3 linked regions of the Homo sapiens genome follow. The protein of the gene in region 1 purifies or fractionates together with the protein of each later gene. This does not show direct contact. Each region holds a gene or a part of one and is shown in the gene's direction. Other genes may lie near its edges. The genes, in order: APAF1, NLRP1 and HERC4.

What was found.
Region 2: the proteins of APAF1 (region 1) and NLRP1 purify together in Homo sapiens (affinity purification with western blotting; one study listed by BioGRID). This does not show direct contact.
Region 3: the proteins of APAF1 (region 1) and HERC4 purify together in Homo sapiens (affinity purification with western blotting; one study listed by BioGRID). This does not show direct contact.

The regions. Positions count from the first base shown.
Region 1 is NC_000012.12:98,662,237-98,665,974, forward strand, and holds part of APAF1 (apoptotic protease-activating factor 1), read left to right. Parts: intron 1-219; coding exon 220-332; intron 333-438; coding exon 439-570; intron 571-2,814; coding exon of another isoform or gene 2,815-2,843; exon of another isoform or gene 2,844-3,122; intron 3,123-3,316; coding exon 3,317-3,555; intron 3,556-3,738. UniProt on the Homo sapiens protein: Oligomeric Apaf-1 mediates the cytochrome c-dependent autocatalytic activation of pro-caspase-9 (Apaf-3), leading to the activation of caspase-3 and apoptosis. This activation requires ATP. Isoform 6 is less effective in inducing apoptosis.
Region 2 is NC_000017.11:5,513,457-5,516,140, reverse strand, and holds the end of NLRP1 (NACHT, LRR and PYD domains-containing protein 1), read left to right. Parts: intron 1-623; coding exon 624-668; intron 669-1,067; coding exon 1,068-1,387; 3' UTR 1,388-2,023; downstream 2,024-2,684.
Region 3 is NC_000010.11:67,953,284-67,956,783, reverse strand, and holds part of HERC4 (probable E3 ubiquitin-protein ligase HERC4), read left to right. Parts: intron 1-1,653; coding exon 1,654-1,821; intron 1,822-2,045; coding exon 2,046-2,189; intron 2,190-3,500. UniProt on the Homo sapiens protein: Probable E3 ubiquitin-protein ligase involved in either protein trafficking or in the distribution of cellular structures. Required for spermatozoon maturation and fertility, and for the removal of the cytoplasmic droplet of the spermatozoon.

The DNA.
Region 1 (3,738 bases):
TGAGGAGAAGGCAGTCTCTAATTTTTTTTTTCCTTATTTGAATCAGCATATTGAGAAGAGTATAGCAAAGAGGAAGAATCATTTTCCTAGATCTAGCCATCTATTTGTTTTAAAAAAAATTTAATTTGGTAGATTTTAAAAGACACTGGTGGGATTATCTTTTTAAAAGGAAGCTTAAGATAAGTGTCATTAGTGATTAATATTTTTTTTTTAAATTAGGTCTCTCTTGATCTTGGATGATGTTTGGGACTCTTGGGTGTTGAAAGCTTTTGACAGTCAGTGTCAGATTCTTCTTACAACCAGAGACAAGAGTGTTACAGATTCAGTAATGGGTAAGGATTATTCGTTTACTTTTTAGTACCTTTATATTTAATTTAATTACATTTAAATATGTGACATACCAAATTACTTACTTTGTCTTGTGATTTTTGTTTGCAGGTCCTAAATATGTAGTCCCTGTGGAGAGTTCCTTAGGAAAGGAAAAAGGACTTGAAATTTTATCCCTTTTTGTTAATATGAAGAAGGCAGATTTGCCAGAACAAGCTCATAGTATTATAAAAGAATGTAAAGGTATGGTTATTTATTTGTTTATGAGGAGATTATAGGGAGTTATATAATTTCCCTTTTGTTAATTGAGCTAATGAATATGGTAATTTAGCACATGAACATCCAAAAACTTTTCTGGGAGATTTAGTATTTTAGGTTCTCTGATATCTTAAATGGATACATGATATTATGGTATTTATTTATTCATTAAAATAATATTTACCATCTACCCACAGTGTGTTAGAGACCACATTAGTGAGAGAAGTGAGACACAGATGTGACCTCTGCTGTTAGAGTTAAAAATAGAGTGAGAATCAGATTTTAAAACTTGTTTTTGCTTGGGATTTTATAAAAATAGTGTTCTAATTTGGTAAGTAAAAACTGGTGTCTTAATTTGCATTTTTTTTTAGCGAAGTTAAACTTTTTACTTGTTTATTGAATACGTTTTAAGAAGTTATCCTTGACTTTAAGAAATTATCCTTGACTCACTTTTCTTTTTTGATATAAGTATTTTTAATTTATTTCTAAATACTCAAAAAATAGAAACTATTAGCTCTTTGTCATATTTTTACAAGTATTATTTCCCAGTAAAACAATTTTTTAACTTAAAATTTATATATAGAATCTCGCTGTGTTGCCCAGGCTGGTCTTGAACTACTTGCCTCAAATGATCCTCCTGCCTTAGCCTCCTAAAGCACTGGGACTACAGGCATGAGTCACCATGTCCAGCCTGTTACCCAGTTTTTTGTGTACCTTTTATTTGTTGTATTCTTTTGACATATAGAAGCTTAAAATTTTAAACAGTCAAATCTATCAACTCTTAAAATTATTTCTTTCATTATTGTTATGCTTGGAAATACCTTATTTTTCTTCTTTTTCTTTTTTTTTCTCTTTTGAGACAAGTCTCACTCTGTCGTCCAGGCTGGAGTGCAGTGGCGTGATCTCGGCTCACTGCAACTTCTGCCTCCCAGGTTCAAGCAGTTCTTCTGCCTCAGCCTCTCGAGTATCTGGGACTACAGGCATGTTCCACCATGCCTAGCTAATTTTTGTATTTTCAGTAGAGACGGGGTTTCGCCATGTTGGTCAGGCTGGTCTCGAACTCCTGACCTCAGGTGATTGCCCGCCTCAGCCTCCCAAAGTGCTGGGATTATAGGCATGAGCTACCATACCTGGCCACCTTATTTTTCATTCTGCCATCAAATAGACACACAGTTTTGTTTGTTTATTTATTTATTTATTTATTTTATTTATTTTTTGAGACGAGTCTCACTCTGTCGCCCAGGCTGGAGTGCAGTGGTGCGACCTCTGCTCACTGCAACCTCTGCTGCCCAGGTTCAAGTGATCCTCCTGCCTCAGCCCCCTAGTAGCTGGGATTACAGGTGCGTGCTACCTCACCCAGCTAATTTTTGTAGTTTTAGTAGAGATGGGGTTTCATCATCTTGGCCAGGGTAGTCTTGAACTCCTGACCTCGTGATCCACCTGCCTCAGCCACCCAAAGTGCTGGGATTACAGGCGTGAGCCACCACACGTGGCCAGTTTTGTTAATTTTTAAAGAAATCTTACACTTAGAAAAAATGCTTAATTTGTAGTTATTACAAAGGGTGATGCATGTCCATTTTGAAAATGTGTGAAACTAAAAAAAAAATAGAAATTATCCATAACCTGATAATTATTAGCATCATGAGAGTATTGCCTCCAGTCTTTTAGAACAAAGATTTAAAAAGTTGAGATTATGTATATGTGGTTTTGGATTTTGCCCTTTTTTTTTTAAAGAGCCAGGGTCTTGCTCTGTCACCCAGGCTGGAGTGCAGTAAGATCACAGCTCACTGCAGGCTTGAATGTCTTGGCTTAAGCAATCCTCCTGCCCCAGCCTCCTGAATAGCTGGGACTGCAGATACCCACCACCACACCTGGGTAATTTTTAAATTTTTTTGTAGGGACAGGGTCTCACTATGTTGCCCAGGCAGGTCTCAAACTTCTGCCCTCAAGCAATCCTCCCACCTCAGCCTCCTGAAGTGCTAGGACTACAGACACATGTCGCCACACCCAGCTGGATCTTACCCTTTTTCTATATCTTGAGCATTTTCCCATGTTGTTAAATATTTTTTTGAAAAAAATTTACCAGTGGCATAATATTGATATATCTTAATTTATTCAACCACTTCTGTATTATTGGACATTGTTTACGTTGTTTAAGATTTTTTCACTATTCTAAGTGTGCTGTGATGAATATCCTTAAACTTAATCATTCTTTTCTTTTTCTTTAAGACAGAGTCTCACACTGTTCCTCAGGCTAGGATGCAGTGGTGCTGTCATGGCTCACCGTAGCCTCAACCTCCTGGGCTGAAGCAATCCTCCCACCTCAGCCTCCTAAGTAGCCGGCACTATAGGCACACACCACCACACCTGGCTGATTTTTCTAATTTTTATTTTTAGTAGAGACAAGGTCTCATTATATTGCTTAGACTGGCGCATATATATATATATATATATATATTTTTTTTTTTTTTTGTAATGACATCTTAGCCAGATTTGATCTATGTTATTTTGACTTAATAAAGATAATCAGGAACTTACTGAATGAAATCTTTCTTATTTCTAATTTTTTTTGGGATAAATATCTAGAAGTGAAGTCAAGAGTGATAAATACTTAAGGCTTTTGATAACATGCAGCAGAAATTGTTTCTTAGTAATGTAAGTAAGTAAGTCGATTCTTATTAGTGACAAAATAGGATGGTATTAGCATAGTGACTTCATTTTTTTTTTAAAGGCTCTCCCCTTGTAGTATCTTTAATTGGTGCACTTTTACGTGATTTTCCCAATCGCTGGGAGTACTACCTCAAACAGCTTCAGAATAAGCAGTTTAAGAGAATAAGGAAATCTTCGTCTTATGATTATGAGGCTCTAGATGAAGCCATGTCTATAAGTGTTGAAATGCTCAGAGAAGACATCAAAGATTATTACACAGATCTTTCCATCCTTCAGAAGGACGTTAAGGTGCCTACAAAGGTAATGGGATCAATGATCCTCATCATTGGGTATTTATTGCATGTAAGCTTTGATATAGTACTGAGCATGTTGTTACAGAGAACCTTGGAAGGATAAGACCCAGGGGACTGAGGTGGTGGGGTGTTGGGTGTAGAAATCCCTCTGCTGTTAGCTTCCATTAAGGGCTTTGTGTTGAACTCAGGA
Region 2 (2,684 bases), on another chromosome or scaffold:
CAGACTCTCAGGCCTTGTACATGCGAGCTGCTGTGAACTTCCCCTTTCTCTCCTTTGCAAAGCAATTTTTAAGTCCCTTCATTTTTGTCGTTGTCTGTTTTTTCTGTTAAAATTAATTTGTTATTCCCATGTCCTAAGATTGCTTGATCTTGATTCTAGATTCTGACATCCAAATCCAGAACGTACACCTTTGGTTGGTGCCAGTCTAGAAGGCTAAACAAGAACAAGGAAGTAGATTTCTGCTCAGACAAGGAGGTGCTAAATAGTTCAAGCTATCTAGCAAGGGGTTTGGTTAGTTCACCAGGGATACAATTCAGGCCAACACGGGATTAAAACCAAGTCTGGGATGTTATAGGAGAAATTGCTATCGCTCATTTGGATGTCTTCTATTACTGTATGATCACAGCTTCTGAGCCTCAGTTTCCCCATATGCATAAGGAAGGGATTCACCTAAATAACCTCTAAGGACCCTTCCAGCTCTTACTCCAGATTCTACCAGAATTTGTCTGTGGCTTTTTTCTAAATCAAAGAATCTCAGAAGTGAGTGGGAGCTTGGAGGTGTACCATGTGTGTTAATAACTTAGCACTGTTTCAGATGCATCTTCATCTCTGTTTTCCTCCAGGAGATCTCATGCCTGCAACTACTCTGATCCCTCCAGCCCGCATAGGTCAGTAACAGCTCTCAGAGACCACAGGAGGCGGTGGCAGTTCTGGGGTACTGTCTGGTTCTGGGGGAAGGGAAGAGAGAAAGGAAGGGACTCATCACTGCAAACCTCACAAAGAGTCAGGCCCTGGAGAGCGGTGCATGGTCGCTCCCCATACCCCCTTGTCCTATCCACAGAGACCCTAGAATTCCTTATCTGACAGCCTCCAATGTGCCCAGCAGGAACCCCACTCCCGATCCCCACTCTGGCAGAATGCCAAGCTAGATGCTGCCATGAGGGAGGACACAGGTGCATTTCTGGAGGCAGAAGGAAGCGAGGGATGCAGAGATGAGAGAGGAAAGCACTGAAGGTGGGGATTGGAGGTGGAGGCTGTGGTTGGAGCCCTTCTTTGTTCGTTGCCAGCCGTACCTTCACCTCTGGATGCCCCGCAGTTGCTGCACTTTGTGGACCAGTATCGAGAGCAGCTGATAGCCCGAGTGACATCGGTGGAGGTTGTCTTGGACAAACTGCATGGACAGGTGCTGAGCCAGGAGCAGTACGAGAGGGTGCTGGCTGAGAACACGAGGCCCAGCCAGATGCGGAAGCTGTTCAGCTTGAGCCAGTCCTGGGACCGGAAGTGCAAAGATGGACTCTACCAAGCCCTGAAGGAGACCCATCCTCACCTCATTATGGAACTCTGGGAGAAGGGCAGCAAAAAGGGACTCCTGCCACTCAGCAGCTGAAGTATCAACACCAGCCCTTGACCCTTGAGTCCTGGCTTTGGCTGACCCTTCTTTGGGTCTCAGTTTCTTTCTCTGCAAACAAGTTGCCATCTGGTTTGCCTTCCAGCACTAAAGTAATGGAACTTTGATGATGCCTTTGCTGGGCATTATGTGTCCATGCCAGGGATGCCACAGGGGGCCCCAGTCCAGGTGGCCTAACAGCATCTCAGGGAATGTCCATCTGGAGCTGGCAAGACCCCTGCAGACCTCATAGAGCCTCATCTGGTGGCCACAGCAGCCAAGCCTAGAGCCCTCCGGATCCCATCCAGGCGCAAAGAGGAATAGGAGGGACATGGAACCATTTGCCTCTGGCTGTGTCACAGGGTGAGCCCCAAAATTGGGGTTCAGCGTGGGAGGCCACGTGGATTCTTGGCTTTGTACAGGAAGATCTACAAGAGCAAGCCAACAGAGTAAAGTGGAAGGAAGTTTATTCAGAAAATAAAGGAGTATCACAGCTCTTTTAGAATTTGTCTAGCAGGCTTTCCAGTTTTTACCAGAAAACCCCTATAAATTAAAAATTTTTTACTTAAATTTAAGAATTAAAAAAATACAAAAAAGAAAAAATGAAAATAAAGGAATAAGAAGTTACCTACTCCATAGGCACAGCAGTCCCGACTGGCTGCTGGTTGGCTATTTTTGTGGTTATTTCTTGATCGTGTGCTAAACAAGGAGTGGATTATTCATGAGTTTTCCAGAGAAAGGGGTGGGAATTCCTGGAACTGAAGGTTCTTCCCCCTTTCAGACTACTTAGGGAAACTTCCAGATGCTGCCATGGCGTTCGTAAACTGTCATGGCGCTGGTGGGAATGTCTTTTAGTATGCTAATGTATTAAAATTAGCATATAATGAGCAGCGAGGACAACCGGAGGTCCCTTTCATCACCATCTTGGTTTGATGGGTTTTGGCTTCTTTACCACATCCTGTTTTATACGAGGAGTCTTTGTGAAACCAGTCCTGCCAACCTCCTATCTTATCCCCACCTCAGACATTACATACTCGTCCTTAATCTTAAGAGGTTGTAGAAGGACAGAGATCTATCTTCTGTCACTGCTTCATGCTGAACAGGGGCCATCATCCCTACCTGCTCTGGAGGCATAGAAATGTCTTCGTACCTGATCGAATGACTTATAGGGACTCCATCTTTTCTGCAGTGGCACAGGCTGGAACACTGGACTAATTATTTTTCTCTGAAACTGTTGTAGCCTGGAAGACATAAACTTGAACCGTCCGAACACCTGATGAATATAACAAATATTTTT
Region 3 (3,500 bases), on another chromosome or scaffold:
GGTACACAAAGTACTTTGGGTAGCTATAAAGAAGACTGCTGCATGTGATATGTATATTCTTATGAGAACATTTATAAAAAAAGGTTGCAGTGAAAATGGAATAACTTAACCTATAATCATTTTATATATTAAAAATTGTATAAGCCTCTTTCATTACAGAAATATTCAATCTTTATAAACCGTTTTACTAGTTTACTTGATAAGATGTTGGTTTGTTTCAAAATCTTGTTTCATTATATGTCCCCTTTTTATATGCTTGGTAAGAGATGGAAGTCACTAGAGGTGAGAGATGTTAAAAGTAGGAAGCATTTGATCTCGTTAGGAAGAAGATGTGAAATTTCCTTGAAGAAAGTTTCAATAATAAGGTATTAAACATGTTCCTGGGGTTGGTCACCATTATCTCCTATTCCTCTTTCTTTTCCCCTTCCTATCACCCTTTCCCATCCATTTTATGTTGAGAGTTCTTTCATTTATAGAGAGGATTTTTTAAACTAATTCATATTATGACTTTAAAGGGTTACAGTAAGTTTGCTTTATCATTTGATCCTGTAAATAAAAAAGATTTTGAGCTGCTTCCTCTGGTATAGAATATCTGACTATACCAACTAAGGATTAAGGAAAGGATGAAAAGAAAGCTTGAATATTTAATAGTCTAAAAATATTTTAAAAAATTAAAAACCTTCAAATCTTGGTAACCATTTTTATTCTGTTCAAATAAATGCATTTGGTATTCTAAATATTTTTGTAGTGTTCTATACTAACAGCTAGTAAGCCAATTTTTTGGAGGTCTTTGTTAAAACGATAAGTTAATAACTTGGTGATTTTACCATGGGATATTCCATTTTAGAACAAGAACTCAGGGAGAACCATAATAAAAGAACAAAAGTTTTAAATGGTAAAAGTCAAATCCTTGGTTCGTGAGCACATACCATGATCACTTAGTTAAGTGAATTTGTGTAATGCTTCCTTAGCCAGATCATTCCTTATTCTTTGTTTTTTATTTTTTATTTTTGAGACGGAGTTTCGCTCTTGTCGCCCAGGCTGTAGTGCAGTGGTACAGTCTCAGCTCACTGGAACCTCTGCCTTCCAGGTTCAAGTGATTCTCCTGCCTCAGCCTCCTGAGTAGCTGGGATTACAGGCACACACCACCACGCCCTGCTAATTTTGCATTTTTAGTAGAGACAGGATTTCACCATGTTGGCCAGGCTGGTCTTGAACTCCTGACCTCAAGTAATCTGCCCTCATTGGCCTCCCGAAGTGCTGGGATTACAGGCGTGAGCCACTGCGCCCAGCCTGTTCCTTATACTCTTTAAAGGTTTGTTTTTGCTCCTCCCTCTTTACCCTCCCCTCCAGTGAATGTTTTTTAGAAAAACCAATGCTCAGATTTATCAGTATTACTACCGTTCTGTACTGGCTTACTCTAATGGTGTTATGAGTTATACATTATACATTAGTATAAAAACATTCAAAAGGGTACTCTTTATGCTCAGTTTATTAAGTTTTATGCTGTACGGGATACTGTTAGGTGCTATGTTAATTCAGTAGCATAGGAATTATAGAATACCTGTAACTAATAGGTAGAGGTTAGCTTGTTTCAGTCACAGTAGCTTTATTGTAGCATTGCTGTTAAAATGTTAATCTTTTGTTTTCCAGATGGCTATTGATCAGGCCCACAGGCAGAATGTCTCCTCTCTTTTTCTCCCAGTGATTGAATCTGTGAATCCCTGCTTAATTCTAGTGGTGCGTAGAGAAAATATTGTAGGAGATGCAATGGAAGTCCTTAGGAAAACAAAGAACATAGATTACAAGAAGCCACTCAAGGTAATTTGACATTTTCTGTGGTATAATTGGGACTTTTATTCAGAAGCTATGTTTAAAATTTTCCTATTTGTTTTTAGTGAATCTTTTAAACTTAATAAATAAAATTATATTTATTTTAAACTATTAATTGTAGAGTATTAGTAATAAATAACATGTTCTAGGGTCTCCAGAATGTACTTTCATTTCTTTACAGTCTATTTGGTGTTTGCATTGTGCTATTTTAGGTTATATTTGTTGGAGAAGATGCTGTGGATGCAGGAGGGGTGCGCAAAGAATTTTTCTTGCTCATCATGAGGGAATTATTGGATCCTAAATACGGCATGTTTAGGTATTATGAAGATTCCAGGCTCATTTGGTTTTCTGATAAGGTAAAATGTCCAACCATCTAAATTACTTCTGTGTATATACCCATGTATTTATACCTGTATGTATCAAGTTAATTCAGTAAATAAGGAATTACTACTGGATCCCTAACATATAAGATCTGCTTTATTACAATTTGAGAAATTATAAACTTTGGACTTGGAGTTGTCAAAATACATTTGATGCTTACCACACATTTTAAATTAACAAAATAAATTAAGAGATGGTTAGCCAGAAAATAATGTTGACTATTCCTTCTGCTGATTTCAATTTGAGGATTGAATAATAATCACCAGATTAACTTTTCTGTTGGGAAAAATTAATTTATCATTAGGGATCATTGATTTATCTACCTTGTCATTTAGAGCAGGTCAGCAGACTATAGCCCATTAATCTCAAAGAAAAAAAAAGTCACACCCACTCTTTTACCTATTGTCCAAGGCTACTTTCATGCTACAATAGCAGCGGCAGAGTTTAAGTAATTACAACAGTGACCTTATGTCCAGGAAACCCCAAAATATTTGCCATCTGGTTCTTTATAGAAAGTTTGCTGACCCAATTTAGTGATCATAAGTGAAAAGGATGGATCAGTTTAGTAGAACTCCTGACTTGAAAGAAATTTAGATAGAATAGCTATTGGTTGTAAAAACCTCAATGTAATATTTAATCATTCTGCCTGGAGGTTGGCTGTCTTGTGTAATGTTAGCAGCTTAGTGCCTAGACTCTAATTCATCAGGGGTTGCAAAATGGTGTGCTACTCTAATATTTCTTTTTCATTTATTAGCTTGGATACTTCTGTATAGAGAAATTTCCTCACGTTTTCTGATTCCTTAGTAGTGCAATTCATAGGAAAGGATTCTATTTAGTTACCAATTTTTCAAAAGAATGAATTGGTTCATTAGCATAGTCCACTGGTAATAATTCATTTTTTGTGTTTTGCTTTCAAGTATCATTAGGTATTCATAGGTTTAAACATACTTGATGTTTTTCAATTCACTGCAGTTATTGTCTTCATTGATGCTCATATTGTCCCATCTTTGTTCAAGGAGAGCTCTTAAGGTTGGTGCCCAAGTCCTTTTGAAACAACCTATATACTTTTTGGTACCTTCCTTGCTACCTTGTGTACTTACTATGACAGAATGTTCCAGACTTATCTTACACATTTACTGCCTAACAGTACCAACATTACCACCAATATTATGATTACTAAAATGTTTTAAATTGTTTTTCAGTTCTTTTTGTACAAAGAGTATACCCTAATATAGATAGACAGCCAGATAATATAGTTTTGATATAATTTAAAATTGTTATACTCT